Linked DNA regions of Homo sapiens: region 2 is linked to region 1. The links come from fine-mapping of genetic effects on plasma protein levels. A gene starts in region 1. The other region holds a variant in brackets. All regions are shown on one strand. Distances are from middle to middle.

What was found. PIP is the posterior inclusion probability: the model's chance that the variant is causal. The UK Biobank Pharma Proteomics Project read protein levels with antibody pairs (Olink). The fine-mapping took linkage between variants from a reference panel, not from the people measured, so its PIPs are less certain.
Region 2: its variant is fine-mapped to the plasma level of the EBAG9 protein (UK Biobank, PIP 0.92).

The regions. Positions count from the first base shown.
Region 1 is chr8:109,527,900-109,543,499 of GRCh38, reverse strand. EBAG9 (estrogen receptor binding site associated antigen 9) reads right to left here and starts at 3,327. Exons shown (of 7, transcript NM_004215.5): 1 at 3,039-3,327. It overlaps PKHD1L1 (PKHD1 like 1), which reads right to left. Exons shown (of 78, transcript NM_177531.6): 78 at 6,293-13,420. The coding sequence ends at 13,410. EBAG9UORF reads right to left here and starts at 3,774. Exons shown (of 1, transcript NM_001436381.1): 1 at 3,700-3,774. The coding sequence starts at 3,774. The coding sequence ends at 3,700. RefSeq lists an enhancer at 2,959-3,318 and a silencer at 3,379-3,928.
Region 2 is chr8:105,561,853-105,577,452 of GRCh38, reverse strand. All of the region lies in intron 4 of ZFPM2 (zinc finger protein, FOG family member 2), which reads right to left. Among named protein-coding and RNA genes, the nearest start is that of ZFPM2, 250 kb to the right of the region's middle. The variant T/A (reference allele first, on the strand shown) is at 8,153.

The sequences.
Region 1 (15,600 bases):
AAACACATAAAAAATAAGAACAAAACAAAATCAGAAAGCCAGAAAAACATACTTAACTCTCATAGTATCTGATCTTGATTGCTCTGTAAAGGCATCATTGCCAATTTCTTCTAAGGAAAGGCAAAACGCACACTAGTCTTTTCTATTTCTAGGGTCAGAAGGGGCTTGTAGGCTATTAAGGTACAAAGACAGGGCTCTAAAATGTTACCTTAGCAATACTCAAGTAGTTTTGTACATATGGAGGCTGTCTCTCCATATAAGCTGAAAGATTTACTGAATGCCTAACCTGGAAGTGGCCTACTAATTGACAGGATGAAAAGAACAGTGACTGTTAAAAAAAAAAAAAAAAAAAAAAAAAAAAAAAGAACCAGAATATTAAAAATTGTACTCGAGTTATTTAAATACTTCTGTCAAAAACATCCCAACCAGTGGTTTACTCAAGTTCAAATCATGCAACAATGCTGACTCCTCCTTTCTTTCTCCTTACACCTAATTGCCAAAAAGACCCTATTCAATTTCCCAGTACTGCCCATATTCTTTCCTATTTCCACTGTAATCTATCTAGCATAAGCCTTTACTACCTCTTGCTGGAGTACTGTAAAGTCTTCTTAATTCTAGTATTTTACTCTTCCCAAGAAACAACATTTTTTATTTTGTATTATGGTTATTTCTATACCTTACTTTGCCCTGTACAACCCTTCTCTAGAGTATTTTATTCATTTGGTACCTTCAGTTACCATTTGCAAAGTAAGACTTGAAAAAAAAGTTTGATTGCTTCATTATGAGTAGAATGATCTGAAAAATTATGATGGTGAACAATCACTTCATTTAAAGCTGATTTGTCAAGAACAAAACTCTCAATCAAAAGAAAACTTTCTCAAATGAAAATTAGCCTAAATTTTCTGAAAAATTATAAGAAAAAAGAGCCAGAAAAGAGACTACAGAACGTGTGGTACTTGGCAGGGAAGGAAATAGAATCAAGGAGATACTCTATCAGTATGTTGTGAAGAAAAATGATATTTACCATTTGGGACTGTCAGTTTTAGGATATACATGAATAAAAGTTGAGAATAAATTTCATAAACTGCCCTAGTAACCACAGCCATCACCTTTCCAAATATTGTTAGTGTCATTGTTTTATAAATATTTGCCAACTTGAATAACTTCAATGCTAACTGGAGGTAAAATTTAAAGGTTGTTTTTTTTTTCCCAATAAAAAATAGAAACTGGGTCTTTTAGTGATTACAGAATAGAATTCTCTCCCTAGCAATCAAGAATATCCTCATTCTGCAGAAAACTTCCTTTTGTGATTAATAAAAGAGGAGAACTGATACTCATTGACTGTCTACTATGAACCATGCACTATCAAAATGTTAACACACAACTCAAAAAGCCATCTTATGACATAGATACTATTGTCCTTGTTTCATTGAATTAAACACAGAGTAAGCACATCCAGTGACTCCATTCAAACCTAGGTATATTTAATTCAAAAGCCAAGAACATCTCATGAACAAGGAACATTCTTAATAATTCAGTGATACTACCACTTCCAAGATAAATTTTCCAACCAGTTGCACTAAAATAGGGAAAATGCGATCAAGCCACACTTTGATTTTATCAATCACACTGACTGGCAGGCAGGAATATCCTTTGAGACCTGTATTTACTTAATGTCCCTATTCATCTAAATGAATATATATTAGCACCTACTATGTTTCAGTCGCTACTTTGGATTTGGAAGCTGGGAAATACTACCAACTCCGCATGGGGAAACTCTGCGTTCACTCCCAGTTGTCATGAGCTTGCCCATAAACTTATCCCTGAGGAATGCAAGAAACTAAGGAGGCAGGACGTCCATCAGTCTTGCTCATTCTGGTATTTATAGGTCTCAGTCAAAGCCGGGCACATAGTAGGTACTCAAATATTTGTTGAATGGAAGGAAACTAACATTCCTTGAGCACTTGAACGCTCAAGACAATGTTCGATCACCTCACTGGAATCCTAAGGACAACCAAAAGAGGTAGGTTTTTCACTACTCCCGTTTAATAGATGAGGTTGACAGACTTAGATTCACTTACCCAGGATTTAAAGGGACTGACCCGAAAGCCCAAGGCTCTCCCTACATCATATCCTACTTAAGAAACCTTTTAATTGTGTGCACATTGCCTCAGTGCGATTTTTGAAATGCCCTCTAGATCACCAATTTGATAAGTATCTTACGCTACTTTACACTTTAGTTGCTTTAAAACACTTTCTAGAACGGAACAATGTTAATATAATCTAATCTTAACATTAAATTTCCTTAAAAATTACAAAGACAAAAATTTGAGGTATATCAGAATGAGATTCAAAACTATGAGGCAATGTATCCTCATTAAGGCTTTTTGAAGAAATGACAACTCTAGGAAATCAAGAATGAGAGCTCTGCCATGTTAACGGAAAAAAAATACAATTAAAAAAAGAATGCTACATTAGAAACTGATAGATCAAATGTATTATATCTTTTCTTGTTGAAATTCTCGGTAAACTGCTAGAGGTCCTTTCAAGTAGCCTCAATACATCACAATTCACAAAACAAGCAAAGCCAAAATCTATGTTCGGTACATACTAAACAGGTGCTGTATTTCTAAAACTCTATTTACGAATCTTTTCATACCAAAATTTGAAAACCATATGATCTAGTACAGTCCAGAATATCCTCAAACTATAACTCTCTGAAGTGGGTTAGAAAATATTACAAAGCTCCCAAAATAAAATTTACCTGAACTCACTTAAATTTGATAAATAAAGGTTTGAGCAGCGGCCCGTAAGAGAAGGGGAAACAGAAGCGGAGTGTGAGAGCTGGTAGTAAAATCGAACATTCTGTGCCATGTCTGGCAACCGAGAGTCAGGCCCTCAAGTATGTGACACCACTGGGGCGGTTCCGAAGGCGGAGTAAGGTCTCCAGAATAACTCAAAAGGAAAGAGTTTCATAACTTAAGTGGTTTCATTTCAGATTACCCACGTGAAATTTGTTGATGAAAAAAAAATCATACCCACTGCACAGATGAGAAAAACAGGAGCGTTTTCAGGTTATACAAGCCGACGCCTGGCGCCCGGCGTGACGTGAAACGCTCTAAGTTGCTGGAGCTGGATACCAGGTGAACTGAGATTTAAATTGTGGAAAAATCGGCCTGGAGAGGTACAAGGCCTGTAGACGGAGGGCAGTAAGGTCACGCAAATTTCCCTGAGGAAGGCGGCTTTGGAGGCTGCGTGCTTTCCGGGCCGGTACCCCACAGCCCAGTCTCCCACGCGTGAGCGGAGCATGGCGAATGCTGCACGCCTGGGTCCCGCTCCCAGTCGCAGTTTCCTCACCCCAGAGGTCACCCTGACCCGGAAACAGTACCCAGAGCAGCTGTCGGGCGTCGAGGGAGGTCTGGTGGAAGGGCGAAAGGAAGGTGGGAGGGCGGGAAGTGCGCGGCTAGGCGGAGGGCCGACGGCGAAGGGCAGACAATGCCCCAGAGGCTAGGGCTGGGGTCGGGATGGGGGTAGGGAGAGGAAAGCCCCTCCCAGGCACGCGCGAACCGCACACACTCACCTGCCCCTCCCCCTCCCCGCCCGCCCGGCGGAGGCTCCGAGCTGCCGCGGGCCGCGCGCGCACACAAGGCGCGCTCACGCGCGCTGCCTGTCTCTTCCTCGAGCTCGCGCTCCGCCCGCTCACTCCCAGCCCCGCTCATTCAAAGCCGGGCGCGCGCTCCGTAGCAGCCTGCGTTGCCTCTGCGCAGCTGCCATGGCCGCCCCTTCATCGGGAAACCCGCCCCCAGCCCCTCCTCTAGCCCCGCCCCCAGCCCTCCTTGAAGGCGGCTCTCGGCTGTCTCCAGGCCCTCGCTTCTGCACTCCGCCTCAGGTCCTGGCTGGCCCAATAGGTGAGAGGCTACGGGTCTGACGTCGAGACTGGGAGCCAATGAGCCCTGGGAGCGGGGCAAGCGGCGACAGGCACGCCAGGTTCGGTGAGGGGTAGCTTTTTGGGACTATTGCGAGCTGCTTTGACTGTTTATTCTCGGAGCGCCTGCTTCTGCCAGATGTCCCTACTTTCCTTCTATGCAGAGTGCCTCCCCTCCAGCAAAGTCCCTTTCTGTTCAACCCACAGAACCCCTGTGTCAGATGCGACCAAGGAAAATACACTGCAACAAATGAGGGATCTCCCTCTGTCTCAGGAAGATTTGGATGTGGCTAGACAGACCCCCTCCCCTCAGTCATTCCGCCACCTCAAAGATGTGGAATGCTGAGTTTAATTCAAGACGTAGCCTCCTCCCAGTAATTTTTAATTGAATTGTGTTGAACTAGAAATGAAGAAGTGGCACTTCACCGTGTCCATGCATTTGTTCCTCACATGCACCCTGGACTTGCCCTTCTTTCAACCTGAGATGTTCTTTCCTTCAGTGCTTCTCTCTTTGCAGCCTGATTCTTCTTTTTATCTTGTATGCTATGAAAGGGGTTGTTATGTGCAGGGGACCCTCAGAATACTATGCTCCACAGTTGCAAAGTGACTGGTGAGGGAGAAGTGAATAGGGTCTAAGGCCAAAATCAGTTTATGCAAATTGTTCTCAACAAGCCTTTTTCTTTATATGCCTTTAATTTTTTTTTTTATTACAGCTGCCTTTGTTCTCCCACCCTGACCCAGCAACCACCTACCCACTTAACTTTGTGATAATCTACCACAACCGTCCTCTTTCCAATTTGCACCACGTTTTTTATTAATAATTTAATTTCCAAGACGGGAAAGATGTGTTTATGGCTCGTGCTCTGGAATGGTTCTGTGTAAAGTTGGGTAAAATTATTTAATCTGTTCACCTCAATTTCCTCATCAGTAAAATGGCCATAATAGTGCCTACTTCATGCAGTAGTAATGCTTGCAAAGCTCTCTTAGCACAGAGCCTGGCACATAGCAAACATTCATAGATAACAGTTGTTGCTGCAGCTACTACTACTACTGCATTACTATTGCATTACTACAGTATCATTTCCGGTAATTGCATTTCCCAAAGGCCATGCAACCCCTTTCAGTCCCTTAAACACCTGCTCTAACTTTAATCTCTAGAATTCTAATGCCTAAATTTCAATATAAAATTTCTAAATTTTTTTTGGATTTAAAAAATCGAGTTATCTAGCTGGGCACGGTAACTCATGCCTGTAATCTCAGCACTTTGGGAGGCCGAGGCAGGAGGAACGCTTGAGCCCAGGAATTTAAGACCAGCCCAGGCAACGGGCGAAACTCCGTTTCTACAAATAATTTAAAAATTAGCCAGGTTTGGTGGCGCATGCCTGTAGTCCCAGCTACTCAGAAGGCTGAGGTGGGAAGAATCACCTGAGCCTGGGAGGTCGAGACTACAGTGAGCCATGATTGGGCCCTGCACTCCAGCCTGGGAGACAGAGCAGGACCCTGACTCAAAAAAAAAAAAAAAAAAAATCCAAAATAACCTATATTCGGATATAAACGTGTTTAAATTTTTTTTCTTAAAGAGTTGATTGCTTTAGACAATTTATTATGCCCAAGGATATTTTCTTCTTTTTCCTGATTCTTCAGTTTTCTTTATTAAATTTGCCATTTCCAAATGAAACAAAACGAAATGTATATACTTTTCCAGAAACAGCTAGTTACTGAGTACTTGTTTCCCAACACAATAGCAAAACAGAAAACAAAGCTCGCTAAAGACTGCAAATTTAAAATTTACTTTAGTAATACCTATAAAATAATATTTTAAAATCATCTTTACTTGTTAAATAGTAAGCCCATAATTGGGATCACAAGTCAATAATTTGGGATTGGGTTTAGGGACCACCTCTTGGGAACAGGGAACTTTAAGTCCTGTCCTCTCCCCAAAGCTTGTGTGGGACGGGGGTAGGAAACCACCAGATGTCAAATGGGAGGAACATAAGGGATAGAACCTGGCATATGAATTTCTTTTACTCAATGGAATATAGTAAATTCTGTCTGCTCTGTGTCCAAACCATTTTGCTCACTTTAACGCTTCTGATCAGCCTCTGCCCAATTACCAGCTTGATTTATTCACACTATCAACCTCCAGCCCACCACTTACTCTCCCCTTTCAAAGCCTACATAGGCTTTGTTCTGACTTCTCCAGCTGGGGCTAACTCTGGCCTTGTCACCTGACCTGGCCCAGGAGGTAGGAGCAGACTGCAAACACAGCCCTCTGCTTCCAGATCTTTCCCAACCCAGTTCCCTGGCTTTTCATCAAAGGGTGGGTTTTTTTTCCCTCAAACACAATTTTAGACCTGCTGTTCTGACTTGGACTTTAATGGCTTTTTATTAATGAGCAGCTGTTCACAGTTGAATACAAGATCATAAAGTCACATTCATTTCTTGATCAAGTAAAACAAAGCTTTGCCGCACATAGAGTGACATCTTTGAGCAGATACATTTGAAAGCATAGGATTTTCTGATGAGAATTTTAATGAATTGTTTTATTAATCTTCCTACTGGAGAATTTTACTTGCTTTCAAAATAATAAACATTAATATTCTGGAAAATTATAACTTCTTTTTTAATACTCAAAATCACCATATACTAGTTAGGGTCAATTGCCTAATAGAGAAATCAAACAGTCTGAAGCAGATTTTTTATTTCTTTTCTATTAAATGAAAATTAACTTTCTATGAAGCATTTAAATAAATTTTTCCTCATAATTGTTATTACAATTAGCAGTAACTTTTATTGCTAAATACAGGAAGATTCAAAATTTAGTAACAATTTAGAGTTAACCAGTTTTCTTCAGAAGGGGCCTGGTTAGAAATCAAGAAAAATAATACATATATTTTAGTAGAAATAAATTCAAATGAAAAGATGAGGTGAATTCTCATTTTGTGTTCAGTGGTGAGGTTCAGCCACATCATACTTCTGGCTAATGTCCACATCGTTATTAGATTTATGACAGAGTTCAGCTATATTATGAATTAAGTAGAGTTGATGGGAACAGCATCTGGCAGTCTAAGACCTTTTGTTATTTCTAACAGTAAATGTATTGAAATTCATACAACCAACATAAAACAGTAGTTTGTAAATCTATCTTGTACATGGATTGAGAAAGTAGAAATAAAACAACATGAAACAATGTGAGACTCATTCATTGAGCTACAGCATGATGGACATCGTGACTTTGACCTTGAACAACTTTAAGCCTCAGTTTTCTCATCTGCAAAATTAGGTTAGTAATTCCTGCTTTACGGATTTATTTTGCAAATTAAATATCATACCATATGTGGAAATGTGTTGGAAACACAGCAATAAAATCGGTGAAACCTTTGAAGCAGGCAGATTTGTTATCTTCAAGATCAGTACAATCCCCTTTAGCTCACAACATGGAATAGTGCTTCCAAGAAATAGAGGTGAATTTTATGTCATCAGCAACCAGAAGTAGACATGTCTACTAGCAATATATTAACAAAGGGAAACAGGGAGGGACAGCCAGAAGTCAACCCTCCATACCCCCGCTTCTACCTTCTTTGTTCCCTTCTTTGTTCCCTTTGTTTTAAAGGCATAGGATGAAAGAGCAGCTGTCAGAACTATGACACTTACAATCCTTCCCCTCTCTCTCCAGGCTTTTATGTACTACTCATGGGATATTTATTTCATACCAAGATCTGTTGCCAAGTTTTGTCTATTCTTTCTTCTCAGTGTCCATCATTTCAGCACATCTGGATATCAAAATGATCTGCTAACTTAGTCTTTTGTATTTTACTATTTTCCTTCCTCTAAGTCAGTTTGTTACTTTGCTGTCTGATTAATATAAATATTGTTACACCTTCTTCATAGTAACTGACCTTTTTAAATTTTCCAGTGTCTAATTCAAATTCACTTAGGAGGATATGTGTCTTGATTGTTGCTTTTTAAACTCTTAATTTTGAATTGTTTGTTTGGGGATCTCCCTCTAACCACCCATGCCCTTTAAGACATACCAGAAATTCTTGTTAAAGGAGTTGGTCTATGTATACTGTACATTTCATACAGTGAAAATTAATTTAAATCTATATTTTGTACGTAGTTCTTATTTGAAATTAAATCCTTTAAGGATTACTTTCACTTGAAAATTGAACTCATAATCATACTAGAAATTTTTGATGTGAAAAACTTAATAAATTTATTTTCTTCCTAAGAATTTATAGCGTTTACATATATAAAGGATCATCTGCCTAAATGCATAAGTTACTGTAATGAAAAACCAAAGGAAAATACTATTGCCATGTAGCCAGGCACAGTCATAAATATCTTGCACAAAAGGAATTTTTTTTTTTTGCTCATAGGCACAGAGCCCATTACCATAGCAACTATAATTACTCAGTCTATAACTGGGTGTGAATTTTATACACTGCTACTTCAAACATTAAGGCTGTAAGTCAGGATAAAGTGCAGTTTCTGTAATATTTTTAAAAGATTTCTTAATCTCAAAAAGCAGGATAGGAAAAGTTTCATCATGCTACCCAATCATTGGTTTATCAGAAAGTTTATTTAACACTTACCATGGGCAGAGTGTGTGCTAAGCACTTTAGAGAAATTGAAAGAATACATAGTCCTTAACCTAAAAAAAAAACCTCTAATAAAGTCACATTCATGGGTGAATGGCGTTCTTAGAACAGTTTCTCCATGACCATCTTTCTAATTTCAGAATGATGGAATTATAATAACTACAGTACTGTATTAGGACTTGCAAGTACGGCAACAAGAGGTTTGTAGCTGGTTAGACTGCCCACAAGTATTCAAGTACCTACTGTGTCCCCTGTGGCAGACTTTTCCTATTTGGTCTTACACAGTGTGTCTGTAGCTACTCTCTGGGGAGGGGAAATTGGGGGAATAAATCTTAATATTTCTTTCACTGGAGACTGAACACTCCTTGCAGCTACTACCATAATGGGGAAGCTGAAAATGCCCACTGATGATCTTAGAAAAAGGGCAAGACTCTCCCACTGTTTTGGTAGGTTCCCCAACCCAACCCAACACATAATGGATTCAGATTAAAGTTTTTTGGGTTTTTTTTTTTGAGATGTGTCTCGCTCTGTCACCCAGGCTGGAGTGCAGTGGCGAGATCTCAGCTCACTGCAAGCTCCGCCTCCTGGGTTCACACCATTCTCCTGCCTCAGCCTCCCGACTAGCTGAGACTACAGGTGCCCGCCACCATGCCTGGCTAATTTTTTTGTATTTTTAGTAGAGACAGGATTTCACTGTGTTAGCCAGGATAGTCTCGATCTCCTGACCTCGTGATCCGCCTGCCTTGGCCTCCCAGAGTGCTGGGATTACAGGCGTGAGCCACTGCGCCTAGCCTCAGATTAAAGTTGAAGCATTTCCATTCGGGAGGGTATAGTAGTAACTCAAAGATGCATGTGGTATTTTAACCTTGGCATTGTCCACCTTTCCCATTAGGAAGGATTAACTCTCTGTTCTCTTGATCCTTCCAAATTTTGCCATCTCAGACATCTGATGAAAGCAGGAGATTTAGGATAACCACCAAATAACAATGAAACCCTAAAGGAGCAAGGGCTGGTATAGGGCACCACAATGTCAGGAACCCAAACTCCTTTCAGCTGAGCTCTCTGGGTTCTGGAAGAGGTATAAAAATATTCTTCACACAAGGACATTGTAAAAGCCATAAAATTGTCCACCATCTTAGTCTTTTCTTACCTAAAGTTTTAATTCAATCCACTGGAATTTTTTTTTTGTCAAGATTTTTCTGTAGATTTTTAGTAAGGAGATTTTCTAACACAAGTTATGGAGCAATAAAAGGCACTGGCCTTTATCCTCCAGGTCTCAGGAGCCATCTTGCTCCATGTAGCTGGAAAAACAGAAAGGGATGAAGAAAAGGCAAAGGGATGCATAATAGCTATGTTTTAAGGTCAGTTTCTAGAATATGCCACGAGATAATGTCTGTTTTTGTAACCCACTGCACAGAAATTGATCAGTCTCACTGCAAGTGAAGCTGGGAAATTGTCTTTGTTCTAGGTGGCCCAGTGCCCAGCCAATAATTCTAATAATTAGCACTCACATGGTGCTTATTACATGCCAGGCACTGTTCCAGTGTAATAAGAAGCCTAATGGTTTACTGGGCCAGGGATTGACATGATATAGGCCACATTATGGAAATAAAAACAAGAGTGGCTATCATTTTACCGCCTGTTAGGCACTGTGTTACATGTCATATATATGATACCATCAGTCTTCAGATGTCACACTTTCCACATTTTACAGTTGAAGAAACTGAGAATAATGGAAACTAAGAACTTGCCTGAGGGCATAGAAGTGGTAAAGTAGAAACCAAGAATTTGAACAGGAATTTGGATTAAAAACTCTTCCCAATGAAGCACTTGCCCATGCTTGAGGAAAAGTGGGAAGCAATTAAATGTTGGAATTTGGGCTCTGGAGTTAAATTGTCTGTGTTTGAATCCCAGCTTTACCATTAGTAGCTCTGTGAACTTGGGAATTTAACCTAACCCTTCAACATTTCAAGTTTCCTCATTTGGAGAAGGGAATAAGGTTATCCTCATAGGATTGCTGTAAGGAAAGGGTCCATGTAGAACACACAGCATAGTGTCTGGCATGTAGTGAACATGTGATAAACCTTTACTTTATTATTGATTATTGTTATTATTAGTGCTAGGGATATTTTAAATAGCACTTTTGGGGATAAAATGGATAAAAGGTAAAAACAGATGGACCATCTAGAAGTCATTGCAATGATCACAAGGTGATGGAATTTAGGAATGAGTAGAGACAGTAGTACAAGATATAAACATTTCACTTACTATGAGAAATACAAGAAGCTATTCTTATTAACTTTTTATTCTCTGTTTCTTACTTTGACCAAAATTGGAACAACATATTTACTTCGCCAACATTTCAGGTCTTAGGTAGAAGAATATTCACACATCAAAGGATTTTTATGACTTGTTCAAGAGCTAGATAGCCACTTCTTACAATACAAATTATTTTTAAGAATTTAAACATCAATTTCTGAGACAGAATGTTCAGAGAAATATTATTTAAATGCAAAAAAAAAGCAAAAATAAAACTTGCTTAGCATATGAATAAGGGACATGTGAAGATGTATTGCCCATGGATTCCAATAATTCAAGCATTTTTAAAAGTAGTAATTAAATTGTAATTTATCTGGAATAAGGAATTATTATGATAATTCTAGAATGTTCTTAAAAAGCAGACAGCCAGAAGCCTAAAGCAGTTAAAACAGGAACTTTTTAACAAAGTCTGTGTGGCTAAGAAGCAATTTTTAGAAATTCCTTTTACTGCCATATAACTTGTATTAGAAAATTTCCTTATTAAAAACTGACAGAAAAAATCTTGACAAAAAACTCCAGTGGGCTGAATTAAACCTTTAGGTAAGAAAAGAATACAGATGGTGGACAATTTTATGGCTTTTACAATGTTCTGGTGTGAAGAATATTTTTGTATCTCTTCCAGAACCCAAATGTAGGAATTTGTTCCATAGATGCTGGAATTGCAGTTTTTGGAATTTAGTTTTCCAACAGAAAGGAAGTATCACGGAATGAACAGTAAACTAGATTTGCCTTAGGAAGACTGATTTTTAAGTCTCAGCGTGAAATGGCCCATGTTGGGTCTCTTTCCCCCTCCCTATCCCAGGAACAGAGGTTTTTCACCCCACCAGGGTTGGAACTGAGGGGAGTATAAAAGTGCTCTGTTACCTGGTGCTGTACAATGAAGTATCAATGCTCTCTGGACATGGCAAATGTTCCTCATGAAGGGGCTTTCATGTATACTTTGAAGACTACCTTGTCAGGGACCTCTTACCTGCAATTCCCTTAAAATTGTGACTATTTCCATTCCAGCTGTTCATTTGAATTTTTTCTGTAGCCCCTAGGCCTTCAGTGGTCCTCTCCCAGTTTTCTTCCACTGCTCTTCTAGGTAGCCCTCCTGAACAAGGCTTAAGGCCTCCATATTGCTAGCAACCTCATGCTTTCTCTCTCTCTCTATCTATCTCTCTCTCCCCCTCCCTCTCTGTCTCTGTCTCTATCTCTCTGTCTTTCTCTGTCTCTCTCTCCCTGAGACAGTGATCATGTTGTATTGAAATGGTCTGTTTCCATTCTTTCCCCAAATATCCTGAAAACTCTTCGAGGGAAGGCATAGCATCTTATTTCTTGTAGCCTTCCTACTTACTAGAACACCCAACAGATACTGCTCAAGTGAATGAAATGCCACATTTATACCAAGATATTTGATTTTACTACCTGGTAAGTGTTTATACATTTTCTGCTAAGTAAGACTAACAATGATCTGAGGTGAATGTACTAGGAGATGTTATACAAGAGACAACGGTATGGGCTTTGTTGAATTCTCTCAGCTGTCCCAAATGTTTGCTGAGTGTCACTTGCTGGAAGGCTCTGGATCTGGCTACAATGTCTTTATTAGGAGTTCTGTCAAATTAAGTATTCCCTTTAGAATTTTCTGAGTAAAGAATTGCTATTTTCAATACTGTTAGAGAGTTCGGTTAACTTAGCTACCTTAGTCTGTAGCTTTTTTGCATTCTCTAATTTATCTTCTTGAAAATAAGTTCTGTTCTGTTGTTGACTTCCCACACTTTATACTTCATTCATCCAGTAAACAGTGAATAAGCATCCACCAGTTAAGGGAACCCCTCAACCCTCAACTCATGCCCGGGGTTGAGGGGAGTCCTGCTCTTAGTAGTGGCAGTTTTGAGTGGGAAGGAGGGGTAGGCAGAGAAGGAGTTTGGACTTGTTCCAAAAGTTCATTCCAAGGACAAGAAAACTTTTCCCAATATTGGCCAGAGTTGGGCAGATCCAGAAATACAGGACAGTCTAGAATTCCTGGGATTACTGTGAATCTGAAAGACAGGAACTCAGTGTGAAAAATCTGAGATGAGATTGTCATCTCAGATTGTGTGAAGACAATCTCGTCTCTCCAAAATCCTTAGAAACTAGAATGGCTTAGATTATTGGAAATCAAAACCTTGTAAATGGATAGAGAAAATAAGAACCCCCCCCCTCAAGTATTAAAAAGAATACTTAAAATGCTTCCAATCTGATGTAAAGAGCTTAAGTCGGAACTAGACAAGCTCTTTCCATTATTTAAAGGATTCTATGATTTGTTGGTACAATAACTTAGAGGTGTCATATCTACTTCCAAATGACAAATTTCTGGAAGTTTATTGAAATGAAATAAAAACATATAAATATAAAGAATCAAAACAAATTTATATTTTGAAGAAATCTGATTTTAGTGTTTAAAGCTAATTAGTACATTTTATATATCATAAAAATATTTTTAGTATATTTTCATGAAAATGCTATAGACTTTTGCCTATTGCCCAACAAAGTAGCTAATAATTCTTATATTTTTGTTTCAGCCTATTCTTCGGAACAGCACTTTAGTAGCTTCCTGAAAAATGGAAACAATACAAAACAATTTTTAAGTAGAAATAGCATATAGTATAATTTAAAATATATTTCATTAATTTTAACTTTTCTCATTTTTATGGTACAGTTAGCAGTATTTCCAAGTTTACCCATTTAATGTTAGAATCAGTAATGGTTTTTTTGTAGAAACTTATAGATTGTGGTGCTTATACAAGATTGTTTTATTTTTTATTTTTCACATTCAAAAATACACATTTAAAATATAAGGTCTTTTATTTAGTGAAACTTCATGATCCTCTTAAAAGTAATATATTATTCATTCAGAATGCAAAGTTATTAAAGAACCCAGCATTTTAATCCATTAATGGTGTTTAAATTTCTTATATTCTAATTGAAAAATGGTAGTTTATTTAGTAGCAAAGAAGAAGCCATTGATTAATCTTCTTATCTGGAAAAGTTCCTGGAAAAAACTCAGGAGCTATATGATTTACTAATTCTTTGAGAATAGAATTATATTAATTTGGTAAAGTACCAAAGTTGTCAGGAGTAAGCAGGATGAGAGTCTATAAAGGTTTTTGCACTTAATGAGGCAATGCAAAATGCACAAATATATATTGAGCAATATTTAGCCAATTAGACCTTATATTTTAATGCTTCTGAGAAAAAAATAAAATTAATTAAAGAAATGCTTGTCATCCTATTATAAAATAAACAATTGGTCTTACTTTTATTACTATTCTGGAGACAAGAAAACTGGCATAAAAATAACATAAACCCCCTTGTCTATATTCAGCTATAAGAGGCCAGAACAAGGTCTCTGCAAACTATGCTTCTCCCTTGACCGCTGGACTCCAATTAATTTCTTCCATTAGGAGAGAAGAAAGGATTTCCTTCTTCTTGTTTTCTGGCTATTCATGAAAGCCCAGCAGTTTGTTTCAGCCTCCAGTTTGTTTTGTCACTTCCAGACCCAGCCTTACTATGTCCTCTGATCCTTTATATTTAAATTTAAAATCTAGTCTTGGCTTTTATTGCTCAATATGCTTTAGTATTCTTCTAAATTGTTACCCCACCTCAAATTCTTCCTCGACTTTATTATACAGTATCTCTTATGTGATTTTTTTTCACTAACGTGTCAGAAACTCTCCCCCATCAAATGAATTGCAAACTGATTAATATGTTCCAATCAAAGCTCTTTACAATTTGCCCACAATACCCCTACTCAACATTTCCCCTTAAGTCAGAGGTAAAGACGCAACTTTCACTTTCAAGATTTAAAATCAATTAAACCAGATTTTTCGTACTTATAATATGTAAGGCATACAGTCTTGTAAGTGCTCACAATTTGGTGATGAAGATAGATTTGAATATAAGCTTAATACAAGTATATTACAGAAAGGACTATAATAATGATATAAACACAAAGTGCAATTGGAGACCAAGGGAGAGGAGAATTAAATGTAGAGTGGGAAGGAAGAAGGGAAACCTGCTGGATGAGGTGGAATTTGAGCAAGACCTAGAAGGATGCTGTGAGAGGTAACCTTGGTGAGTAGAGGCTGGCAGCCTAGGTATAGATATAGGGAATATGTAGGGTGGAGAGAATTCTTTCTGGAAATGATTTGGTAAAAGGAGGGAGTCTTCAAATCTGTTTTCAAGATCTTTGATGTTGATTATATTTTTTGCATGTAGTGAGGAATAGTTGAGGATTTGAGATTCCTGTTAGCATTACATGACCTTAAATCTGACAGCAATATGGAGGATAGGCAAAAATGGCACTGGCATTAACTGCGGGCGGAGAAGTATGTTTGTAAGGAGATGATGAGGAATTCTGTGCTAAACATGTATAACTGAAGATGTTTTATTCCACTGCCATTTTTTCCTTGCTCCTATCATGTCCCTGTTCTTGAGTGCCTTTTCCCTCCCTTTCCAAATCTTATACATTTTATACAGTCCCAACTTTCATGTGTTGCTAATGCAATGATATTTGCAGTCTTCTCTAATCATATAGGGACGTCTCCCTTTTATCAATCTCTCTAATATTCAATGTCTCTGTCTGCCTGTCATTCCTCGTACTAGCACCTTTATTATCCTTAGTGAAACTACACCTCTGCCATTCTCAGTACCTTACCCCATGTGACCAGGCCAAGCTAATTAGAATGCTGTGGCCACAGTGATTTGTTCAGGAATGGGCATGTGACCCAAGCC
Region 2 (15,600 bases), 4.0 Mb after region 1:
TATTTGTGTAAGTTAAGAGTATAAAGAATAGGAAAAACATACAAATGTATTCATTTTTATCTTATTTGTTGGCTTAAAAATCAACTGTTTACTCTATATGAGCATGCATGTGCATGTATGTGTGTGTGCCTGCACACATGTGAATACTACTTTTTGTTTGTTAGGTTTACTTAAAAATATACATAAAGGCTATGGACAGAATTCAGTTCTATTTAAATACTCTTACATGAAGCAATTCTGTGTGGGAAGCATTCAGATTTTTGTATCCCACATTTTAGAAGAGTTCCTGACTTATGGAACATGCTAAATAAATACTGAGTCAAGTTTTCCTTCAAGACTTCTATGGCTGTATGTACAAAACATTAAAGAAAGAAATACATTTTAATAGTCATTTACTTGCTACTAGATTCAGCAGAGGAAAACTGTTAGAATAGTTATGAAATAAGGGAAATGATTATTCCACTACCCTTTCATATGACTGTAAAGATGATAAAAATAACATACCACTATAAAGGAAACTAATAAAAGATAGCTGAAGCTTGAGCAAAATAAACCATTATAGGAAGGCACACAATATGGCTGGAGATTTAGTTAGGGTGACATGTCCAAAAGGGACCATCCCTACTCTTTCATGCAGACAATAGCCAACTGTTTTGCTTGGGTCCATTCTAAAAAGCCTTCTTAATGATTAACTTCAAGTGAAAATAAATGACCATATAAAAATACATAAATGGCCATATAAAAATCTGAAAGCTCTTTACAAAGTAGGAGCATTAATATACAAATACATACAAATAGATCTATCCTATCAAAGCTTTTTTAGAAACAAAAAGTTGTCTTCCAATATGACAGGATGTGTCACTTTTCTTCTATCTTTCTTTGTATTTTCACACAGACATTATTTTAACCAATAGTTAAGAGTCTGAGTTAAACTCACCAAAACAAGAACGTTAAATCTGAAGGTGGAGTTGCCCTCTACCAATCAGGTCTCAGCAGTGGGGAGCAAACATCACCTCCAAGCAGCTAAGTTTTTCTAGATAAGCACTGGACTATCCATGGTATGTGAGGTATTTCCCTATCATTCACTCATCTGACAACCACTGTTTTTAATTTTTTGTGCCTCTATGTTTATTCATAAGACACCAGGCCAATAGTAGGAGGAATAGTTAAAAAAAAAATCTCAGCATCATCTATAAGCTTAAAGATACTTAAACTTTACAGTGTATTGACTTGATGCCCACTTTTCTTGACCATGTTTACTAATTGCTCTGCGTATATATTATTACCGTGTGCTGTAAGATAGTGGTTCTATTTTGCTGGAGCTTTAGCTGTCTTTTTATTTTTTCCTTCATGGGTAGGAATGATTTTATTTTAGCTGTCCTAGGAATAGCAGATCCGTTTCTAAAGCTCACTAGAATTTTCTTAGCTGTATGAATTATGTTTGAAACATTTAATGTGTATTTTTTAAATGCAGAGTAAAAATAGCCCACTTATTCCCCTTTCAAAAATCTCAATAAATAACAAAGGTACATTAGGCTCCAAAACAGCTTAACTGAACCATATGTGGATCCAAAGGCCTGCCAAAATGGAATCAGCATTATGAAAGATAGCTTCATATTTCATCTAGCCATAAAATAGGAACCCACAGTATATAAAATGTACAGGCCACTTGTACAGAGCTCATGATGACAGTGAATTGAACACTCATTGTCAACAGAATAAAAGTGACCTAATACATACTCTGACAGGTTTCTTGAGTTTGGATATTTTTTTTCTTTTTCTGTCTTTTTGACCTGGATTGACTAATCACAGATTATGGAGCAAATGACTTAAAACAGCATCTTGAACCTATGCCCCTATGACAGTCACAGAATTTTACCATTAAAATATTTCATTAGAAAATCTTCAAGAAGCAGCAGAAGGTTTGGCACTGAAGCCTTAGGATCCCATTAAGGGCCTCTGCCATATTCCCTAGCTCATCTAGTCCAAAACAGCACACTCCACTCCCACGGAGTCTCTCCAAAGCCATTTTGAATCCTCTTTTCCCTTATCAGGCTGATACAGACCTGCATCATCCTCGGAGCCTTCTGACAGGGGCTACAACAATTGGGGAAAGGGAGGGGGGTGATACAACGGCTCATTGTTTCCTTTCACAAAACCCTGCCACAGGGCGCAGATTAACACCAAAAAATAGATGGCTGCAACCAAAGAGAAACATTTTTCAGAATGCCTCCACTTGATTAATGAAGTAATGGAGCCGACCACTGTTTGACTTTCATCACGCACTCTTCCTCCCTCACCCCTTCTCCTCCCGGAATATCAGCAGAGGCGGGGGGACACTTGTGCACATGTCTGCCTCCTTTGAAGAGTTGTCATTTTCACAAAGTTTTGAAGAAATGCACCAAGAATAACACTGCCTAGGTTTCTTGCTGAAAATATTCAGATAAAGGACAAATTTTCTTTCCACCACTTCTGTACTTCTTTAATAAAGGCAAGTGCTATTTTTTTTTTTCCTATAGGAGCTGAATTTAACATGTACTTGGGTCCTGATGCCTATCTCAGATGCACACATGGATATAATTGGGTACCTTTAAATGCACTAATATGCTGCGTGTGCCTGGGCAGCAGTGGCTTTCAGAGGAGAGGTGGTAATGCCGCATCCGAGATTAGGATCAGAACCTGAGGGACTCTTACTGCTCCTGTCTGCGGGGTAATGCTTACACTATTACACATAGGGTAATGAGGTACAAATGGTATTTGTTTGACTTCTTAATAAAAGCTAAAACTTAAGGCACGTGACGTGCCTCTGCTCTTCCAAAACTCTGTCCCCATTTCTTCATATTTCACAGTACATCACTGTCTGCATTATGACTGCCTTATTCACTCCATTCTGTATGGAGCTCTAAAATGCCATAAATAATGAAAGAATTGAGTTAACATTTTAAAATACAAACCTAACTCAAAAGTGAATCAGACAGGGTAAATTACTTTTCCAATTGTCTGAAATCCCCAATCACACACCTGAGAAATGCTTTCTGAAGAATAACTCCCTACAAAAAGAAAACTCAAAGAAGCCAAGATCATTCAAAAGGCAGTTTGACCACTTAACCTTTCTTTCTCTTCCTAAAAATATGTGTTTTTCCTCTATGGTGACTGTCTGCTTAGATGATAAATGCACTAAGTCCATACCGTTTACTTATCTAGGCTATGAGTTCTCAGAATATTCATGCCAGCTAATCAGTAAGCATGTGTGTGTATGGATACGTGTGAGTACACGTATATGAAGCTATATTCGTATGACAACAAAACCTGCTTTTTAAAGTATGTTTAGGGAGAGAACAGAAGAGAAAAGACTAGATGCACTGCTTGGGGAATTAAAGGAATGAATCATTTACTTTCTATTCACAGGCATAATAAAAGGAATCCAGGTTTGTTTAACAATCTGTATGTTTTTCAAAGTGACTAAATGCGTATAATTTTATATAACTTTACAATTCTATGTTGTAGGGCTGGTATAATAACCCCTATTTTATAAAAGAGGAAACTAAGAGCATGTATGATTACCCAAGATAGCACATCCACTTTGAGTAATAACAGGACTAGAATCAGGCTGTTCTGACCCCATCACGGGCTCTTTCCCATACTTTCTCTCCCACTTTTGATCTTTACAGTGTGTGGGTGTATATTTCTCAAAATTACCAAAGGAGAAGAAACACTCAGCAAACTACTTTTGATCCCCAATTCCCACCAAATTTTTGTACAAATCACGTTTTGTATATTTTAATTTGTCTTTATTGCAAAATTAATATCTAAATAAATTAATCAGGAAGCCACTGATCACAGATGTGAGAAACCATAAATATTTTAATGAATAATAATAAAATATACCTCATTTTCACAAATGTCTTTTACTTATTAATCTTTGATTTTGGTTATGATGCTGTATAGCATACAGTTTTGTTGTCTGTATTCAAGTTCACTGAATTTTCTTTTGTGATTGCTCCCATGGCTCTTGGTATTTGAAAGTCCTTCCCTATCCACAGGTCAGGTTAACTACTTATGCAAATTACCTTCTGTGGCAGACAGCCTCTGAGTTGGCCCCCAGTCATCCCAGCCTTCTGGTTTCAAGCTCTGCACAATTCCCTTCCCTAGAATTCAGCAAAAGTGATAGGATGCCACTCCCATGATTAAGTTACCAAAGCACTGTGGCTTTTGTCTTGGGCTCCCTGTCCTATGCTCTCATCTGCTTGCTCAGAGGGATGCCAGCTGCCATATTGTGAGTGGCCTTAAGTAGAGGCCCACTAGGCCAAGCACTGAATCAAGAGTCATTTGAGTGAGCATGTAAGCAGATCCTCCACTAGCTGAGCCTTCAGATGACACCAAGACCTGTCTGTCCCCTTGATTGAAGCCTTGTGGGAGACATTATGCCTGCGACAAGTTGTGCTCATTATTTTTAACCATCAGAAAAGGAACTAAAGTGTATGAGAAGAAAACCACAGACCAACCTACATAACTCTATGCTTTAGTCTGGTTTCCTGCCATTAAAAAATAGAAAGTGATACAAAATGGCACAGAAGACGCTGAAATTATTAGAATCAAGAAGCCACAGTTTTGTCAAGCTGGGACAAGGGGTTTTATGAGAAAATTGAAGTAAGAGTCAATGAATAATAAAGAACAACTTTAGGCTGGGCACGGTGGCTCATGCCTGTAATCCCAGCATTTTGGGAGGCCAAGGCACGCAGATCACCTGAGGTCGGGAGTTCTTCGAGACCAGCCTGACCAACATGGAGAAATCCTGTCTCTACTAAAAATATAAAATTAGCCAGGCATAGTGATACATGCCTGTAATCCCAGCTACTCGAGAGGCTGAGGCAGGAGAGTTGCTTGAACCTGGGAGGCGGAGGTTGTGGTGAACTGAGATCACGCCACTGCACTCCAGCCTGGGGAACAACAGCAAAACTCTGTCTCAAAAAAAAAGAACAACTTTAAATTCAATATTTAAATTAACAGGCAAAAATATGTTAATCTCCAAGAGAGTTTCTCAAATAATTTCTCAAATTTCCAAAGTATGTAATAAATATTACTTTATTATTCTCTTATTAGAAATTTATGCAAGAGGCTAGGTGTGGTGGCTCACGCCTGTAATCCCAGCACTTTGGGAGGCCAAGGCAGGCGATCACAAGGTCAGGAGATCGAGACCATCCTGGCTAACACGGTGAAACCCCATCTCTACTAAAAATACAAAAAATTAGCCAGGTGTGGTGGCGTGCACCTGTGGTCCCAGCTACTCAGGAAGCTGAGGCAGGAGAATGGCATGAACCCGGGAGGTGGAGCTTGCAGTGAGATGAGATCGCACCATTGCACTCCAGCCTGGGCGACAGAGCCAGACTCCGTCTCAAAAAAAAAAAAAAAAAAAAAAGAAATTTACCCAAGAATACTTGCCCCTGGACCACCACACAGCATCAACACAGAGCTTTATAGCAGTGGCTTGGAAAGAGTCACAAACTTGCCAATGCTAGGAAAACCTTATATGATAATAAAGGTTGTCAATGCCACCTGAGAGCTACAGTTAAATTATGAAACTTGGTGAATCCCATCCTGGGAATATTTATTGAAAATTAGATTAAAACCAGAGTCCAATATGTTATCAGAGTTTGACAAAGCATTATCCCTAAGTAATTTTGATTTTTAAGACCAAACTGAAGGAGTACAAACTGGTACCTATCTCCATTCTCTCTGTTATCATCTCCAAGTTACTGAATGTATTAATTGTCATGTCAAGCTGAGATTGATGCTAAGTCCTCATAATGCTGGCACAATATTTGTTACAACCATGTAAGCATATCCTGCCAAACTAATTGTTTTGAAATCAGTATAGAATGACAATTCCTCAAAAACATCAAATAGAAAGAATTTAAAAGGCATGCCAGACCTATCAGCACATAACAGAGGACAGTTTGGTCAACTCCATGAACAACTCTTCCTCACAGTGCTTTGTTACTTCTACCTTCCCCTCCAGGGAAAACTACATTTCAAGATTGATATTTTAGAATTTGTGTTACAAAAACAATAGTTATGCTTTACAAACCACTTCCTCACTAGTCAAGATGGTGATAGATTTCCCTAGAGAGGCAGGGATGCTATATATCCACCCACTTCCACCTTAGGCCTTCATGATTCTGTTTTTGGCAAATACGAAGAAATGACAGTAGCAATGAAATCTGCATTAAGAAAATTCATGTAAGGATCCCTATGTGTGGGAACAATCACAACTCCCACAAACAGTATCTGGAGCTATAAATCAATAGTGATTCTTCATCCTTCACACCGATCCTCTGTGGGAAAAGGTTATGTGACTCATTTGTCTCAACTTTACACACATAGAGTGGATCAGCTTTGATCATCTTATGATGACATAAACAATTCCTCCTTTCAGAAATTAATTAAATTAATAGCACTAATCGTCCTAATAACTGAAAAGATCATCTTCAACAAAAGTTCTCCTTGGAGTTCTGGGAAAAGGGAACAATGAATAATCTTGTAAAAATAATTCTTTTTAAAAGTTCAAACTTGGCCTAACTAAGGGTAAATAGGTTTAGCCATATAAACCAAAGGCCAAAATGTATTAAAATTTCAGGCAGAGGAGAGTAAGTTAGGTCCATAAATAAAATTGTCTATGTATAGCAAGGAATTGTGTTTCCACCTTTCAAATCCAAGTCCAAATGTAAAGAACCTGGAAAGACTTCACCATCAGGAGAAAAAGTAAGTCAGGATGAGATTGAGGTTAACAGGCTAGCTATACACAAAAGGTATTATTTTGGAGGCAAGTAAAAATTATCAGGAAGGGCACAAATTCAGGTTTTCATTTCAATACCATTGTGCCATATGACAATGTATTTTCATCCACTGCCAACATCATAACTATATCTGCATTATAACACAGCAAATCCCTTCAGATTAATATGCAATTGACCTCTCTGGCTTCTACATATTTCAATTGTGAAATAATTCTTCGGTGTTTAATTTCTTCCTTTCTGACTCACATTCAATAGCAGGCCTTTGATTACTGAGGCCTCCACACAAACTTCTTTCTCCTCTTTCCCTGAGTAATCCCCCTCCATCAAAAAAAAAATAAATAAAAATAAAAATCAATAAAACAACAAAAACCCTACCCTAATTCTAGAAACCAAACCAACGCATCACTTTCCAAGGCTCTGCTGCATTACATTTCTTGCCTTCAAGTCTTCTTTGAGCAGCTTTTCTGTCCACTCAGTTTCCATTAATTCTCCACATAGCAGATAGAGTATAAGAGAAGCCAGGATCTTGCCCTCCCTAAGGGACAAATCTACAACCTCCATCAATAATGAATTTCACCAATGTTTCCCAAGAGGAACAGGGTACAATTAAAAAGGTTATAAGTCCTTGCACTACTAGAACCTAAGGGCGTCTGTGAATGAAACTGGCTTAAGCCCAATTAGAGGAATCAGTACATTTGTCTTCTCTTGGAACAATCTTGCTCTTACGGTTCCCATCAATTCAGTATAAATCTGACTGATCTTATCCAAGAAGTTAATAGAAAATTGCTCACAGTGGGCGACTGCCACCTCAGTTTCCAAGCAGAGACAGATGGAATTTCCCAGATGGTTTGTCACTGGAACGTGTGAGGCTGGATGAGACTTCACAGAAAGCATGGTAGAGCAGAACACCTTCTTGGCCTTCACCCATGTCATAGTGAGGGATCTAAAACTGAGTCTGTTGTAAACAAATCATAATTGCCTCACTAGGCGCAACACCTCATCCTCCTAGCTGCATCCAAGGGTTGCAAATCTTACACCGAAATTAGTCAACTTTTCTCAAGAAACCATCATGGGCATATCTCCTTATGAGATAAAAACTGAAGAAATAGACATAGTTATCTTGTCCTACTGAAGTTTCCTCTCAAACGAGACTAAAATAAAAGTGCAAGTCTATAAACAAATAAAACAGGTACAAGATAGCATTTCCTGTGGTAATTGCTCTGCTGAGTTAGGCAGATGAAGCAAGATCACAGACGAAACAGACATGGATGTAAAGCCTCAGGAAGGATGCAGGGTCTTGAATAAGGAGGGGTGTGCAGCTGTTCCTGATATGGAGAAAAGTGAAAGGAAAAAAT[T/A]AATGTGCTGATTCATTCAATGTTATTCATTGAGCTCTTAGTATAAGCTAGACATTGTTCTAAGTGGGAAGGATAGAAAGATAAAAAATAGATAATAAGCATATGGTCTGCAGGGGAGATAGACAAGCAAACAGGAGCTCACAGTTATGTGATCAGTGCTCTTATCCTAGTAAACCTAGAGCACCAGGGAAATACTCCAAGAGTGGTTATCTATTCCAGACAGGAGGCTTCAGAGAAGGTCTACCTTGGAAGTGACTTTGAGCAGAGTCTTTAAATAAGTATTGGACTTAGTGAGATGAAGAGAGATAGGTGGGGAGGGGGGAATAGGGGTTTCCAGGAGGATAAAACAGCATGACCAAATGTACGGATGTGGAAAAAAAATGGACATTCAGGGCACTGCATGTAGTTCAGAATGCCTAAAGTCTATAAGAGAGTGGAAAAGGGGTCAGAACTGGGGAGGTGAGCATCACCTGGGGAGGTGAGTAACAGGAAGGCCTTTTTTAGGCTTTACCAAAACCTTGGGGTATTCTCGTGCCCTTTAGAATGATTTTAAAGCACAGGAGTTAAGTGACTACTGTAGTTTTGCTTTCAGGACATACTGTGGTCTGAGTAAATAAAAAGATGACAAGAGAGAACAGAAGAATATTGTAATAATCAAGAGAGAAGCGGTGGGGCTTTCGACTAAAGCAGTGGTAGCAGGACAGAAAGAGGAGAACAATCATTACGAAAGCAGGAGTTATGATGCTTGGTTTCTGGACATGAAATGGAGAGTCTTGGAAGATGTTTGACTCTGAATAGAAGGAAAAAGAGATGGTAGTAGTTACAGGCAAAAGGAGAGAGGTATGGGTATGTGTAACTGTGTGTGAATAGCATTTGAGATGTGAGAAGGAGAGGTAGAAATGCAGAAAAGACACAGGATAATTGAGAGAATGGACTCCCTGCAGAGGTACGAAAGGAGAGGCAGAGGACTAGGATTAAAGGTGACTGAAAGCTGGAAGTCATGGAAAAGAGAGGCTGTCTGTGGAGACAGGAATAAACTCTCTTTGTGACTGTGTAGTTGGAGGAATTAAATGGGAAAGCTTGCAAAACAGTTGAAATGTGCTATTAGAGAAAGGGTAAAAAGCCAAGGTTAGAGATTTTTTTATTTAAATGTCATTTGTAAATTAGTAGCTGAAGCTTTGCAAGTGGATAAGCTCCCTGAGGCACTGGGAACAGAGGGAGAAGAGAAGAAAGGCCAGAAGTGTTTTGGGAAACACTCACAGTTAAATTAAAAAGAGCTAAGACCCAGAGAGATATGAGAAATAGGAAAGTATGGTAGTCCTGAGCCCAGATTAAAATGAATATTAAGAAGGAAGATATCATTCACAATGTCAACATCAATGAAATCTGAGGCTCAACAAAAAGTCATGCCTCAGCAAAATTATAAATTATGCCATTGAGATGGGAAAGATGGAGAATATGGGTGGAGTCAGTGAGAATGTTCCTGATAAGCAAATTCAATTCGATTAGATTTTTATTTTAAAGAGCAGTTATTGAATACCGATTATGTACCAGTAGTAGAGGTCCAAAATTGAATAATAAAGATTAAATAATTCTATGTCCTCTAGAATCTCAATAATAATTTGGATATTGCTTTTAAATTTATTTCATTATTACATCTTAGAGGCTGTCTTAGTATGGATTCCCCAGAGGCTTACCCTGAGACTGATTCAAATACAAGTAGTTTACTGGGAAGTTGATCCCAGAAAATTCCAGTAAGGTTGTGGCGAAGTAAGCAGGAAAGGGAAGAGGTCCACAAAATGTTCACTATCAAGGCAATCAGAGCTCAATTCCACTGCCAAACTCTAACAGACAATATAGAACACATCTTATATCCTAACCAAGAGGAAGGGAAGCGGAGGTGTTAGTCCACCAACTTTCTGTCCATCATTGGTTGAGGATAACCTTTGGGAATAGGAAATCTCCAGCACTTCCAGCTTTCCCAGCTTGCAAGGAGTTTGCTCTTAACGCTGGAAAAAAGTGCTCAGGTAGAAAAGTCACAGGTGTGCCCACTGAGCAGCCTTTGCCTATAGAGGTGAATGCTGGAGACATAGGTAGAGATATATTTGCTACAGGATATGTACAATATGAAGCTTGAAGACTAGCAATTATTAAGATAAAAGATGAATACTGGAAAAGATAAAACTGCAAAGGGATAAATGGAGGCAATTAATAATTCTAATTATAAGCAGGTAGATCAGGAACTTCTAATTTTTTCCTTAACCACATTTCTATAAAGATGACTATCTTAAAACTTTTAAGATGCAATTTGATACATGCATTATTTCATTATTAGGTCAACAAAATATCTATAGTGCCCTTTATATGTATATTTCATTTTTTTAAAAAAAATTCAGTATCACAAATACCCTGTGGGAAAATAATACATTTTATTCTGATTGAACAGAATAAAATGAGATTTCTCTGTCAAATTTCATTTGTTGAATTTAACAGGTTGCGATGAGTTTACTATTATGTTGTAAGTAATCTGGGGCTTTCTATTTAATTAACTATGTATGTTGTATGATTCCAGCAGTTGGCTGAATCCAATCAGAATAGTTAGCTATCAACAGTTGATAATATTTAAAAGCAAGAGAGGGCAAACGCCATTTAAATTTCAGACACCCAACCTTCCAAGTAATCACTGTTGCTTGATACTTGCTAAGCACTACCACGTGCTAGCACAGCTGAGATTTAGTTTATTGCAAGGATCTTTGTCCTTGGGAGAATATGGGGAAAATCTTCAAAGGTACAACATATAAACATAGATGTTCTAAAACACATCCAAACCAGATATTGATCAGAACTTAAGGTGATTTTTAAAATTTCTTCCTCATCAGTAGTCCTTTGATTTTTTTTCAGTGAATAAAACTGCAAAACTTTCAAAAACACCAAGTTTGTGCTACCATGATAGTATTTAATATAAGTTATTTCTGAGATATGAGGTGAGATGCTGGAAAGAAAGCTGGGCTCCCTCACTGGTATCAATTTTTTCAGGGGTATAAGGTCATACCTCAAAAAACTGAAACTTGCAAGGTAGTGCAGACCTTCGGAGCCTGTGATGGTTCATTTTAATTGCCAACTCACAGGGCGTTTCTGAATGAAATTAACATTTAAATCAGTGAACTCTGGGTAAAACAGACTGCCCTCCAAAATATGAATGGGCCTCACCCAATCAACTGAAAGCCCGAATAGACCAAAAAGACTGGCCTCCCTGCAGACGAGGAAATATCCCAAAGACCGCTATCGAACTTCATCTGCACCACTGGCTCTCCCGGGTATCTCATCTGACTGAGTACTGCAGATTTTGTACTTCCCAGCCGTCATAACTGGACAAGCCAATTCCTTATAACAAATCTCTGGCTATATACGTACACATCCTGTTGTTCTGTTTCTCTGGAGAATCCTAAGACAGAGCCCTTGGCAAACAGTCAAATTTAGGCATGTAAAAATCCCCTAACGCCAAGGTTTATAGTGTTACTTGTTTAATTTAAAGAGTGCTTTTTGCTTTAAAGTTGAAAGATTTCAATGGGTTCACTTCCACAGATTACTGACTAGTAAAAGTAGTTGAAATGTGTGGATAACTCACATATGCTATCTCATTTAGTCCAAAATTCCTATAAGCTAGGCAGTATTATTATTACCACATCACAGAAAACATTTCTAAGACTGGAGCATGTGTTATGGAATCAGACTGAGTTGACCTTAGGCTAGTTATTTAACTTCCCAAAGTAGCAGTTTACGCCTCTGCAACAAAGGAGATAAATATTATCTTCTCTTGCACTTGTGTAAGAAGTAAATATGATATAAAACATGTAAAGCACTTTGACCAGTATCTGGCCCAATGAAAGTATTTACTATGCTGCTGCTGCTATTATAAAACTTTTAAAGCATGAAGTATCTACCAAGATAATAAGGTGTGGACAAAAGATACTCTATTTCTATGTTCAGTGTGTTATATAATTCCAAGAACAACTTTTTGTCAAACTAATTTGTTTGGTGTTTCTGTGTTTTTTAAAATGTTCTATATACATCTAAATGCCTGGTCTGCAAAGGCTTCCTGCAGAAGGTGGCATATTGCTAATGTACTTGAAGATGGGGACTTGAAAGATATAAAAAGGATTTGACATCTGGCATGGTGACTCAATTAATTACTGTGTTGGATTAATTAGTGAGCTGAATCTCCCGAGCCAACACCATGAGTTTGAGCAGAGTAACATTACATCAGTTGGCGAATAAGCAATTTAAGAGAGTGCGCTAATCCAAATTTGATTCAAGGTTGGGTAGGGAAGGGGTAGTAGGCTATATATTTTATTATAAGGAATATTTATGATTTCAAATACATATTATAGTACTGTCCAAATTATGAGAGGTAACAAAACTCCAGAAGTCTTTGAATTAACTTTTAACTGCTCAAGTAGTCTAATTACATAATAAATATTTTGCCCATCGGGGAAAAAAAGGTATATTTCTAATTTTTGCATACTTCCTCCCAGAGATTTTTATAAATTTATGATTCATGTTAAGAAATCATCAACAATTTTATCATGCTCAAATCATGTTACAGATGTTATACTGAGAATGCAGTGTGGCAGAGTCTTTAAAAAAGCAGACTCTCGAATCAGAAGTGAGAATTTTTATTTTCTTATCTGTAAAATATGATTTATGATAGAACCAAATTCACAGGTTTTTTGGAGGACTAAATGAGCTAATCTATTTCCATTTTTCAGACATATATGTTAACCAATTTGATGTACAGTAGTAACAGTAGTAGGAATAATAATACTAGTAGTATTTAATGATATAAACTCAGAAGTAAATTTTGGAAGAGGATGTTATTTCAAAAGAAAAACATTTGAAAATATATTTTAGTGAGGCAACTAAATTTTAAAATAAGGAAAAATGCTGTATTTTAACTAAATAAAATAATCTGATATTTAAAGCCTAAGACAAAAGAAGAAAACTGAAGTATTAAAATTGTTTTCTATAAATAATAATCACCCATTACCCAATTGTTGATAAACTTAAGAGTAGTCATGTTTTAAATAGTATCAAAAATTCTGAAAATTTCATATAAGTTAACGCCTTTTAAAAATATTAAATATGGCATAAAATAGCTTTACAGTCATATAGAACTATTAAAATAGCAAAATGACATCAACTGTCTAAAATCAGAAATTATTTCAATGAAAAATAAAAAAATCAAACTTTCTCAGACAGGTTTATCTTCTATCCATCACGATTTAGCATATGGTAAAAATGTCATAAAACTACCATTCTGTATACATACAGAGAGTAATAGCAAGATTAATCAAAAATAGCATTTTAGTAAATATATCCTTTTAATATAGTAAACTGGAAAATGTTCATCTTGCATGTCAACTATAGCTGATACAGTGTCAGTACACTTTTGAAGAAATATACAAATGATTAAAGGTTGCATTGGTATCTGATACACTGTGATAAATAAGATAAATATGATATAGTTTAAAATGTTTAGTAAGCAATGCTAGAAGACAAACAGAAACTCCCAGATAAAATAAGTTCAGAATAGCATTTAATTCAATCTTTGATGTTTAGACAATCCTTCTCTTGCCTTTCTTAACATTCATTAGCTTGAGAAATGGGCACAGTTAATATTGCTCTCTGAAAGGAATCAATAAAACAATCTGTTAATACAACTCAATCAACTGAGGCCTGCATTTTGTGGCTACATCACAAATCTCTTTTGAAGTAGCTGCACTGGTCCACCTAGAACAAATTGCCCAGAATATTAAATATTTGGTCTGGACTGTAAGGTCAACTTGTTTGGTCCTTAAATGTATGTGAAAACCCCTACTTCATCCTTTTATGGATAAATACATGAATGTACAAAGTAATAAATATACCCCTGGGATCTCATGCACTCTTTAAAAGTTTGGTAACACAAATATTTCCTATTTATTCTAATCATTACTTTTAGTTGAACCAACAACCTCTGTCACATCCACATGGTACTGAATAAACGGAGATCCACATGTATCAATTTCTTTCATGTAATAACTTGAAGAAGGGATTTCCTTCATGTAATAAATCAAAAAAGGAATGTAATGTTGCTGAACCCAGTACACCTGTCGAAACCCCTCTGGGAGTTCTTATGTCCCTTTAGCATAGATAGGGTCATTTAAAAGTCACAAGACTGTTCCTACATAAATGGCATTTAGAGAGAAGGACTTTCAGGGGAATAAATACTTATAAAATTTCTGGATCCTCTAAGGAATATGAAACATTTTTCTTCCCAAATTTCATCACCTGTGTTATCACTTATTATAAGAGAGGTTTTCAGCTATTGTTTTTCTTTTATCCCATGTGGTAGGCAGAATAGCTCCTTGCAAAGATGTTTACATCCTGACCTCTAGAACTTGCGAACATTCCTTTGCATGGCAAAGAGAAATGAAGGAAGCAAATGGAATTGAGAGTGTTAATCAGCTGACCTTAAAATAGAGAAATTAGCTTAGACGACCCAGGCAGACACAGTGTAATCATAAGCATCCTTAAATGTGTAAGAGGGAAGCAGAAGAGTCAGAGATGGAATGTGGACGTGCGAAAGACACCATCAGGCCCTGGTGGCTTTGAAGATGGAAGGGGGTCTATGAGGGAAGGGCCACGGGCAGCCCTCAGAAACTGGAAAAGGAAGAAAACAGATTCTCCTATAAAGCATCCGAAAAGGAGTTCAGACCTGCAGACACCTTGATTTTAGCCCAGTGACACCCAATTTGGATTTCTGACTTCCATAACTGCAAGATAATAAGTTTATGTTGTTTTAAGGCACAAAGTTTGTGGTGAGTTGCTGAGGCAGGAATAGCAAACTTATATATCCAATTAAGAAATAAAGTTTAAATGTAACCAAACTACCTACCTTTCCATTTATTTATTTATTTATTTATTTATTTATTTATTTATTTATTATTTTGAGATGGAGTCTTGCTCTGTCACCCAGGCTGGAATGCAATGGCACGATCTTGGATCACTGCAGACTCTGCCTTCTGGGTTCAAGCAATTCTCCTGCCTCAGCCTCCCGAGTAGCTGGGACTACAGGCACCCGCCACCATGTCTGGCTAATTTTTTTTTGTATTTTTAGTAAAGATGGGTTTCGCCATGTTTGGCCAAGCTGGTCTCGAACTCCTGACCTCAAGTGATCCACCTGCCTCAGCCTCCCAAAGTGCTGGGATTACAAGAGTGAGCCACTGTGCCCAGCCTCCATTACTTTTAAAACATCTAATTAATCAATAATCCACATAATCATGGCAAGAGATAGACTTTCTGTTCTCAGAACTTTTACAAAAAAGCTGAATAACAAAAATTATAATGCTGACCACTCATCCCTGCTTTTAAAGGTACAAACAGTATTACCAAGGAAAAACAAAGTT